2 linked regions of the Homo sapiens genome follow. The protein of the gene in region 1 purifies or fractionates together with the protein of each later gene. This does not show direct contact. Each region holds a gene or a part of one and is shown in the gene's direction. Other genes may lie near its edges.

Region 1 (5,831 bases):
CAACTTTTCAAAAGAGTAGTTGGGAAATGTGGAAGCCCACCCTTACTGCAGCATAGTTTTAATATAAATCTTAGATTCGACTGTGACTCTACTAACCTTAAATAATTGAGCAACATGTTAATATCATTGATTAGCATCTTAGATTATAAAGATTGTTTCAGCTGTCCATCAAATACCTGTTCTGGCTTTACAGACACAATGTAGATTCATTGCTGGCAGCAGGTTTGGAAAGTGTTGTCTCTTTATGAGTTAAAAATATCAAAATGGCATTTGAAAAAATGTATTAGCAAATTAAACCTTTGTACATGGTACTATGGACCACTTTCCCCCAGAGTCAAATGTGTGTCTCTCCTGAGAAGCCCTCCTTGGGTTTTCCCTGCCAATAAATGTGCCTTTACTTCTCTGAGCTGATGGAGGACTAAACACCCCTCCAGCACTGGAATGCCGGTCCTGCAGCCACTTCAAGTGTCCACCTTCTTATCACAGTCCAAGCCCTTTAGAAGGCAAAGATGATGGCTCTCCATCAGTGTTTTCAGCCCTAACCCAATGCCTGGCCCCTGTTGAATGCTGCAGAAGGACAATGCTGACAGCTTCTCCTTGAAAGAGGGTGTGGGAGTGACAAGCAGCTCTCAGGTGAGACCAACAGACACTGTGGCTCCGCACGTATGTCCCAGGCTGTGTTCTGGGCTGGGGGACCAGCAAGGAGAAGGATCAGCTGTCCGCTTCCAGCTGTTCTGAGGGATGATGCTGTGGGTTTTAGAGGAGGCAGGGGTGCGGGAGGCAGAGAAAGGCGCCAGGAAGAGTGGTGAGGAGAACTGGAAAAACAGAAAGCGCTGGTGAAGCCAGCAGGCAAGCAATGACTCCGGCAGTCTTCCTTGCCTCTGAAGCAGAAGGGATCCAGGGACAGTTAGTGGCTCAGGTCCTGCGGCTCCAGGTGCCCAGACGTGCATTTCCTGTGTGGAGTGGCCGGGGCCTCTCCTTGGTGTGCAGCCCAGAAATGTGGCAACTTTGGGTTACCCAACCTTCCTAGGCGGGGAGGTAGTCCAGTCCTTCAGGAAGAGTCTCTGGCTCCGTTCAAGAGCCATCACAGTCCCTTGTATTACATCCCTCTGACGGGTTCCAATAGGACTATTTTTCAAATCTGCGGTATTTACAGAGACAAGACTGGGCTGCTCCGTGCAGCCAGGACGACTTCAGCCTTTGAGGTAATGGAGACATAATTGAGGAACAACGTGGAATTAGTGTCATAGCAAATGATCTAGGGCCTCAAGTTAATTTCAGCCGGTTGTGGTCAGAGTCACTCATCTTGAGTAGCAAGCTGCCACCAGAAAGATTTCTTTTTCGAGCATTTAGGGAATAAAGTTCAAGTGCCCTGCGCTTCCAAGTTGCAGGAGCAGTTTCACGCCTCAGCTTTTTAAAGGTATCATAATGTTATTCCTTGTTTTGCTTCTAGGAAGCAGAAGACTGAGGAAATGACTTGGGCGGGTGCATCAATGCGGCCGAAAAAGACACGGACACGCTCCCCTGGGACCTGAGCTGGTTCGCAGTCTTCCCAAAGGTGCCAAGCAAGCGTCAGTTCCCCTCAGGCGCTCCAGGTTCAGTGCCTTGTGCCGAGGGTCTCCGGTGCCTTCCTAGACTTCTCGGGACAGTCTGAAGGGGTCAGGAGCGGCGGGACAGCGCGGGAAGAGCAGGCAAGGGGAGACAGCCGGACTGCGCCTCAGTCCTCCGTGCCAAGAACACCGTCGCGGAGGCGCGGCCAGCTTCCCTTGGATCGGACTTTCCGCCCCTAGGGCCAGGCGGCGGAGCTTCAGCCTTGTCCCTTCCCCAGTTTCGGGCGGCCCCCAGAGCTGAGTAAGCCGGGTGGAGGGAGTCTGCAAGGATTTCCTGAGCGCGATGGGCAGGAGGAGGGGCAAGGGCAAGAGGGCGCGGAGCAAAGACCCTGAACCTGCCGGGGCCGCGCTCCCGGGCCCGCGTCGCCAGCACCTCCCCACGCGCGCTCGGCCCCGGGCCACCCGCCCTCGTCGGCCCCCGCCCCTCTCCGTAGCCGCAGGGAAGCGAGCCTGGGAGGAAGAAGAGGGTAGGTGGGGAGGCGGATGAGGGGTGGGGGACCCCTTGACGTCACCAGAAGGAGGTGCCGGGGTAGGAAGTGGGCTGGGGAAAGGTTATAAATCGCCCCCGCCCTCGGCTGCTCTTCATCGAGGTCCGCGGGAGGCTCGGAGCGCGCCAGGCGGACACTCCTCTCGGCTCCTCCCCGGCAGCGGCGGCGGCTCGGAGCGGGCTCCGGGGCTCGGGTGCAGCGGCCAGCGGGCGCCTGGCGGCGAGGATTACCCGGGGAAGTGGTTGTCTCCTGGCTGGAGCCGCGAGACGGGCGCTCAGGGCGCGGGGCCGGCGGCGGCGAACGAGAGGACGGACTCTGGCGGCCGGGTCGTTGGCCGCGGGGAGCGCGGGCACCGGGCGAGCAGGCCGCGTCGCGCTCACCATGGTCAGCTACTGGGACACCGGGGTCCTGCTGTGCGCGCTGCTCAGCTGTCTGCTTCTCACAGGTGAGGCGCGGCTGGGGGCCGGGGCCTGAGGCGGGCTGCGATGGGGCGGCCGGAGGGCAGAGCCTCCGAGGCCAGGGCGGGGTGCACGCGGGGAGACGAGGCTGTAGCCCGGAGAAGCTGGCTACGGCGAGAACCTGGGACACTAGTTGCAGCGGGCACGCTTGGGGCCGCTGCGCCCTTTCTCCGAGGGAGCGCCTCGAGGAGTGGCTGGCCTGGACCCGCGAGCATCAGCGCTCAGACCGGGTCCGCGCTGGGGCTGTCCGTTTGCGACAGGATCGCTGATCCCTTATCCAGCTGTCGGGTTGGGGTCTCACTGCCGAGGCCCTGGGCACTAGGAGCAGCACGCACCGGGACCTGCCTGGCACCCAGAGCCCATTCCCAGAGGACCTGGGGCAGGTACGCAGGGTCCCCCGGAGCCGGGAGCAGAGGCTCCTGAAAGCCTGCCAGGCTGCCCGGGGCTGGGCTGAGGCCGGGACTTTGGTGATATTGGGCACTGGCCGCGACCTCGCGTCACGAGAGTGTAGGAGGGGAGCCGATTTGGAGGGGACTCGTGCCTGCGGGGGAGCAGGAGGATCTCAGGAGAGGGCCAGCGCCGGCATCCCATGACCCGCTTGAGTCCCCAAGCCGGACTGTCCCGGGGAACGCTCGGCGAGCGCCCGCTCCTCCCCGCCGCTCTCGGACCGCGGGGCCCCAGTGCGCTGCGCTCAGCCACCCGGGTGGGGCCTCTGCCGGGAGCAGGCGTGGTGCGCGGTCCAGTCCGTGTCGCGGACATCAGTGACCCTGACCCACAAGGGCAGCCCAGGGCCCAAATACCGTTAACTTACTGACTTACAAGCCTAGCCTTTAAAATCCGAGCGAAGAGAGGGCGGGCGATTTTGACCAAACGATGTGGTTTGAGGAATCGATGAGGTCCGCCCGCCACCTAAGTCAGCCTTCGCTGGGCGTTTGGGAGACGGGCGGTGGAACAGTCAGGGGCCGGGGGTTTTACCAGCAGTTAGACCGCCGCCATTGAGGGGTCAAAGCCCCGAGGAACTTGAGGGTTCGGACTCGCAGTCTCTGCTCAGTGGGGCTGAGTGGCGGAGATTTGTGCCTCGTTCCCCTGGGCGCAGAGAGCCAGATTTCGGAGCGCCTTTCTTTTAAGCATCGTGGAGAAAAGGTAAAATATGAAATAAAATATAGTAATATAAAATAAGTCATTGCAATGATTCCCGGGAAGAAAAGTCAATAGGATGGAGCGTAGTACAACAACAACAACAACAAAAAGCTTGTTAAACCCAAAAAGCAGTAATAATTAAATATTCTTTCTCAGTGGGAAGACTAACTAGACCGTCAGTTTCCAAGTAACAAGTAATAGTTCCAATTAGATTGGAGAAACTACTAAACCCGGAGACAGGGCGAAGTGGTAACTTCTGAGAACTCACTGTAGGTTGGGAAAGGTGCTAACATAACTATATTAAATAAAATGTTGTATTTTCTATTTCACAAATACATTTTTTGTTTTGAAAAGTCACTTGTATTAAAATATAATTGCTTAGAGAATTTAAATACCTCACTCGACTATTATGTAAAGATAAATCTAGCTAAATTACATGAATCTAAAATTACGGAGGGAAAAGTACGTGATTTATTAGATTTTCTGCTTCACATAATTATATCTTTATTTTGAAAACATGCTGACTTTAGTGAAGCATCGTTTTCTTTGTAATTGGAAGCATCTTAGATCAGTGGAAACTTTACAGAAATGTGAGTGGGATCCTCTTGTGATTTTTCTTAGATTATAATTTACTTAAATGGGGCAGCAGTTTTGCAACTCTGAATTTCTTTTTTTTTTTTATTTGCACTTTTTTGGGAAGAAAGGACTAACATTGGCAAGCTGAGAACCTCTTTACCTAACAGTTAACAGAACACTCTGTTAGTTCATGTTAGCTCAGTCGGCATCATGGGTGCTTTTGAAAACTCATAGTTTCTCTGTCTGGTTAACAAGCATCTCACAGTAAAACAATCAGCTACCGCCTACTTTACAAACCGCATCAGGGCTTTCATGCTCAACTGAGAGGCTGCATATCCGGGAAGCAATGTCTAGTAAGAAGCCACGGTTCCCCACTGCAGAGTTCTCTTGCGTCATTATGAACCTGGGTCTGCCTTCCTTCAGGTACTATGTAATCTTTGAATACTTATCAGCTATTAATATTCTGTGTGTGTGCATGCCTGGTGTGCACATGCATTGAGAGGTAAAATAACCAGAGGCTCAGTATTACAAAAAGATAATGCCTTTCCCCTCTAAAGCGCTTATTTACCTCTTCCAGACATTCTGGGAAATAAAAAGATGCCAATAATTCAGATACTTTCAAGTCCTCTCTATTGCTCTTTCTCTATAAAGGATACCAGTCCTCTTTCTCCAGCTCTGAGTCTCATTTCTTACTTTTAAGGTATCACAACCTGGATGAAAGCTACAGACCTTTTTCTTTGCCCTCATTTTTCTTGAGTTCTTGAACAGCTAACATTTACAATTTACTATAACTAAGTGGAAATACTGAAATTGTGAATTTTGTGAAGGAAGTCCATATTAATAATATTAAATCAAAGTGCACATGAAAATACCTATTTCAAATTGAATGTAATAAATCTCTTATAATAAAGTTAATTTTTTGTAACAATTTTTGTTGTTTTCTCCAAGGTTTTATGAAGCTGCACTTTTTTTTGGTCTAAATTGCATATTCGAAATATTAATTATTTAGGAGCTTTGGCAGCCTACAGTTTTCCAACTGAAGCATCATGTTACAAAGGAACTGTAGGTGACTACTTACTCCAGTTCCTCAAATATTGTTGCTTACTATTTTAGCACTTTGTTACATTTTTAAAATTTCCCTGTTGGACATTCTATAATAGGCTATCTGGTTTCTTTTCTAACGATCACCAAGTGGGTACTTTGTTTTCGTATGTAAAATGAAGACGTTAGTATAGGTGGTTGATTTCTAAGGCCCTTTTCTGACTCCAAAATTCAATGAATGATTCCAAGAAATGGCCTGAACACCGTGTCTGTCTTTCTCTTTTCTCTTCCCCACCTTATTTATATTTGTATATAGAGTGGATGAGAAACCATATGATGCTGGGGCTGTTAGGATGAACTGGGTTTCCCCTGCTAATCACATTAAACTTTCTTTTTCTTTAGTAGCATGTACCTAAACAGCCAGTCAATTTGGCCTTGAATAGGCTGTTTTGGAAGAGATGGGCTGGTAGAGGATGCCTGAGCCAGCAGTCATCTTTATCTTGGGCTTTTTTCACTAG
Region 2 (5,107 bases), on another chromosome or scaffold:
TCTTGTGAGACTTGAGAAATGATTACCTGTTTTTCATGAGAAATACACCAAATCTTACAATTGCAAGCCTTAATAGGTTTTGTTTGTTAAATAGTTAAGCCAAGAGGAATTGTTGCTAATGAGAGACAAAGATCTGAAAGAAAAACAATCACTGGGCTTGTGTTTAATCACTTTTTATTTTCTCAGATCTCCATCATGTCATTATCTGGCTTTGGTGCTTACATAACTTAACTAGGAGAGTTCAGGCAGCAATGGGAATAGGAGGGCAAAATGAAAGGTTAACAATTTAAATGGATCACCTGCAGATGCGTGATATGGATGGAGATGAAGCCTATTAAGGACCTAATTTTAGAAGAAGCTCTTGACATCAATCATTTGTGAAAAGGGTTTTTTTTTTTTTCTTACCTACACACAAGGTTTTGTACACTTGTCTACAAACCTTAAGCATTGATGCATCTGATCATCAGCTTGTGGGATTACTAACACCAAGCCACTTTGAAAGAGCAGTCAAGGTTATTAACTTTGGCAGGAAATGAAAATTTGGCCTTAATATACATGTGAAATTGAATTGTCTGTAGCACAAAGCTTTGGAGATTACCCATGCAAAATGAGAAAACTATCTAAATTTAAAATTGTCCTCAGTACAGGGAAAGTAATTTTGCAGACAGCATTTTTACTGCATTGAAATCCGTGAAGATTGGCTCTATTAATTTAAATTTAAACAGAGGTTCTGTGTCTTCTAAAAATCGCAAATGAGATGGAAAATGTACTTCAAGGGAAAAAATGGGTTTCTGGATATGCTGCAGGCAGGCAGGCAGGCTTCCTACTCCACATCTTTGAGTCTGCCCTGAGACCAGTTAGCTTCAGAGGGAAGGCTCTTTCCACTGTGACAGGCATTTGAAATAAGGACATGCAGACAATGCCTCTATTACATATTTCAGGCTTCAAGAGTAGGGTAAGAAACTGATCAAGTAGAGCCCAAGGCAAAAGTCATTGGTGGCTTTTACATTACATTTACCAAAGTAGGTGGGCCCTCGACAGAAAAAAATCTAGGGGTTGAATATTTTTTCTCAGCTATCAAATAACTTTCTTATAATCCCTGCCTGGAAGGATACTGGGGCAGGGGATTTGGTTACATTAACTACCTTTTCACAAAAAAAAAAAAAAAAACACACACACACACAAAACAAACTTTTACGTAAAGAGAAATTGAAATTTTCATTCCCTGGTCTTTGAATTTCTTTAGTTCACAACAAACCCTTTCTTATTAAATAATTATTGGTAAATCAATTACATTTATTTGGAACCCTAGTTTAATGACACATCATTTCGACATCAAGAAGAATACATTAACACAATAACCAGAGTACAACAAAGACTAATAATAGGCTGTGTGTCTCTTTATTGGCCAGAGCCTTAGAGACCTTATTATTTAATAGAGTTGTCATAATGAGGAAACTGAGGACAAGTAAGTGGTTGGCTTATGCTGGTTCGTAGAGTTGCTTACTAATAGAGCTGAGCCTAGAATTAAAGTCACCCAAACTTCCAGATCATTAATAAATTTGCTACAGGTTATCAAAAATCGCTGCTGAGTAGACACCATGCCAAAAATAATAAAATAACTGCCTTTCCTCATCTTTACATTGTTTCCTTTTTTTTTTTTCAGGTATTGCTGTGCTTTACTTACATCTTTATGATGTATTTGGGGACCCTGCCTACCTACAGTTAGCACATGGCTATGTAAAGCAAAGTCTGAACTGCTTAACCAAGCGCTCCATCACCTTCCTTTGTGGGGATGCAGGCCCCCTGGCAGTGGCCGCTGTGCTATATCACAAGATGAACAATGAGAAGCAGGCAGAAGATTGCATCACACGGTAATCATGTTTCTATATGAGGATTATTTTCTAGCATCATTATGCATTAATTCTGCATGTGTTAACAAAAGAACATTCTAGTGAGTTTACTTTTCTCTTAGCAGATAAATCTCACTGCTGTCATTTGATCAATTGTCATATTCCTGTGTTGTAGTTAAGGAACAACGATTATAATCCCTATTTTAGTGCAAGATAAAAGACACTGTCATGTTCCAGATTAAACATCAGTTCAATAATGTAAATGAGATCGAAAGCCTTAACATATGATTACTAATCCAAAGTGCTATCCAAGATCTGTAATTCAAGGAAATGCAGTTCAGTTCCTACAGGTGGGCTGGGAGAGTCCTTCTAAGGGACCACAGACTGATTCAAAACGGCCTTTCTTAGAGGCAATGACATGCACATCCTGATTTTCATTTTGGTATAAATTATGGTGGTCCACTAGAAGCTGGTGAATTATGAAGAATTATTAAATGTTTGTACTAATAGACTTTAATTGTTGCCTTACCAGAGTTTATTAAGCACTCTTTCGGAGTTCTAAGAACCCTGGCTGCCGTGCAACTCTGCATGCATCGCTCTTAGGCTCCACTGCGCGTGCTAACACTCCAGCAACGTTTTAACCAGTGACTGTCCCTGAGTTGACCATGGTGTTTGATTCCCACTATTCTTTCTTATAGATTACTGTTAGGATGGCATTACCATCACCAATTTAGTTTGTCTAGGATCCGTTGGCTAATCTTATACTGTTTGCTGGTGTATATTTAAACAACAGGCTTTTTGGACTTTTTAAGATATCATAGTGCTGTATTCAAAAAAGGAATGATTTATACCCCTATTGTTTAGGCGTGTGTGTGTGTGTGTGTGTGTGTGTGTGTGTGTGTGTGTGTATGTATGCATATCTCCCTTCTCTCCCAATTTTTTCCCATGCAGTGATATTTTCTTATTGTAACTAACTTTTTCCACTGGAAAGTGTAACAAAAAGAAGGGGTGGGAGTCTTGCTCCACCCAAAATGATTTGGGAATCATTATATTGGATCATTTTCTGAATTGACGTATTCTTCAAAACACCTTTTTTTAAATACATGCCTATGCTACATTTCTTAGGGGCTAGACATTACATAGTATAACTTTAAAAACACATTACTTAGTGTGTCTAGAGGAAAAAAACTGAACATTCCACTCCAGAGCTGAGAAGCTTTTAATATAAAACCTGTCACCAAGCTCGACCAAAATGAAAGATGAAACAAAACAGTGATTTCCCCCAAAGTTTAAAGTGTGTTCCTTCCATAGTAGCTGACTTGCATAAGACTTGCCAATACAAAAACTGTTCCATACTCACCTAAATTTGAAACACAGAGACTACCTTTTAATTTTTTTTACATAGCTGATGTTTAAAGCCATCAGCCAACAACTGCTTTAGAGGTCCACAAGATACTCTCATTCAGTGAATCACTTGTTAAGTACCATCAGATAAATTGTAGTGCTCCCAATATTCTATATATAATGCCAGCCTTTCCATAATACATGCAGCCACATTTTAATAGTTTGCTATGTGAGAAATGTTAATGTGTTCAATGAGACCAAGATTCATAGATTCAAACAGATGGGAATTTGTATCAAAGCACTAATTAAACAAAATTAAATATGTGTCTTTACCGGCTGCTTAGCTTCTTCTGTAGCTTGTATACCTGGGGACAACACGCCAACTCTAGGGAGCAGCACTTGCCAATGTTAACTCACCTATACAACCCTCTTCTTCATGAAATCTTGAGGGCCTATTCTAACACACTCTTTGGGAAATGGTACAATATCAATATTAGTGTATTAAAATGCTCCTAAGAGTATGCTAAGATTTTTGTTGTTTTTGGTATATTGGTACTAAGGGTGTTGTTGTCATTTACCTTTTTAAATTTTGACATTTCGACAGTATTTATAGCCAGTAGGCTTGTTAAGGTTAAAAATATAGTATGTGAATATAATAGGAAAATACACTATTTGTGGCTATAGCTTTGATTTTTTTCAGATTTTTTATTTTATACAAAACAGAAAAAGAATGACTTGGAATGATTTGTAAGTTACGGAGTTTGCTTTATCTTTTCAAAGGAAAAATCTAGAAATTTGACTTAATTTCAAGAAATCCAAAATTATTTAATATAAGTTATTTAGTAAACCTCCTTTAACTTTTTACTAAACCTTTTTTCTCATTTTACAGACCTTTTGAGATCCCACGCTCACATTCTCTGTGTACTGCCTTTGTTGTGCTTCATTGCCAACATCATGTTCTAGCTAGCTTGCTTTTTCTACATTTTCTTAATGTAATGTTCTTTCAAAAGCATAATTTTTAAGTTTTAGAGACCAGACAGTCCTTTGAGATCATCAAAAGTCTAATCCTTACAGAAATTGAAATCCAAGGAAATCAGTGTTTCCCTATAGTACATATTCTTAACCTTGGGCCAGAATCTTAGGGTTTCTGGCAGTGTATAAAACCCCCAAATTATATTCAAGGAGGGAGCATTTGTGCTTTTCTTAAAGGGATCTATAACTCCCCAAAAGGAGGGTGTGTGTGTGTATGTTCATGTTCAAATTGTCCTACAAATGGCTGGGGAGTGGAGGGGAGGACAATACATTGCATTAATTTGTTCTACTGCCTGATACATATCAGATCTGTTTTCATCCCACCCACTTCTACACATCAGTGCCACAACATGAATAAAGTGTGTTGCCTGTTCCCAATTAGATGGCTAACCTAACATTTATAGTGCTTTGGGGCCAGTACTTAGAATGATGAAGCGCTCTGGCTTTCTGGTCCAGAAATATATAACCTCCCTTCTTGTAGTGTGACGAGTCAGTAATGGACATCTTTTTTTTTTTTTTAATAAGCAGAAAAGGGATTTAAAAATATTTATTGTGGTAAAATATACATAACATAAAATTTGCAATTTAACCATTTTTAAATGTACAGTTCATTGGCATTAATTATATTCACAGTGTTGTACAACCATCAGCACTATTTATTTTCAAAAAATGTTTTATTACTCCAACAGAAACTGTACCCATTAAAAAGTAATTCCCCATACCCCCATACCATCATCCCCTGGTAATCTATATTCTACTTTTTCTATGAATTTGCTTATTTTACGTATTTTATATAAGTGGATTATACATTTGTTCTTTTGTGTCTGGCTTACTCCATTTAGCATAGTGTCTTCAAGGTTTATCTACGTTATAGAATG

The links. The genes of interacting proteins can lie anywhere in the genome.
Region 2: the proteins of FLT1 (region 1) and LANCL1 purify together in Homo sapiens (affinity purification with mass spectrometry; one large-scale study listed by BioGRID and IntAct). This does not show direct contact.

What each region holds. Positions count from the first base shown.
Region 1 is NC_000013.11:28,491,492-28,497,322, reverse strand, and holds the start of FLT1 (vascular endothelial growth factor receptor 1 isoform 1 precursor), read left to right. Parts: upstream 1-2,194; 5' UTR 2,195-2,479; coding exon 2,480-2,543; intron 2,544-5,831. UniProt on the Homo sapiens protein: Tyrosine-protein kinase that acts as a cell-surface receptor for VEGFA, VEGFB and PGF, and plays an essential role in the development of embryonic vasculature, the regulation of angiogenesis, cell survival, cell migration, macrophage function, chemotaxis, and cancer cell invasion.
Region 2 is NC_000002.12:210,451,874-210,456,980, reverse strand, and holds part of LANCL1 (glutathione S-transferase LANCL1), read left to right. Parts: intron 1-1,666; coding exon 1,667-1,874; intron 1,875-5,107. UniProt on the Homo sapiens protein: Functions as a glutathione transferase. Catalyzes conjugation of the glutathione (GSH) to artificial substrates 1-chloro-2,4-dinitrobenzene (CDNB) and p-nitrophenyl acetate.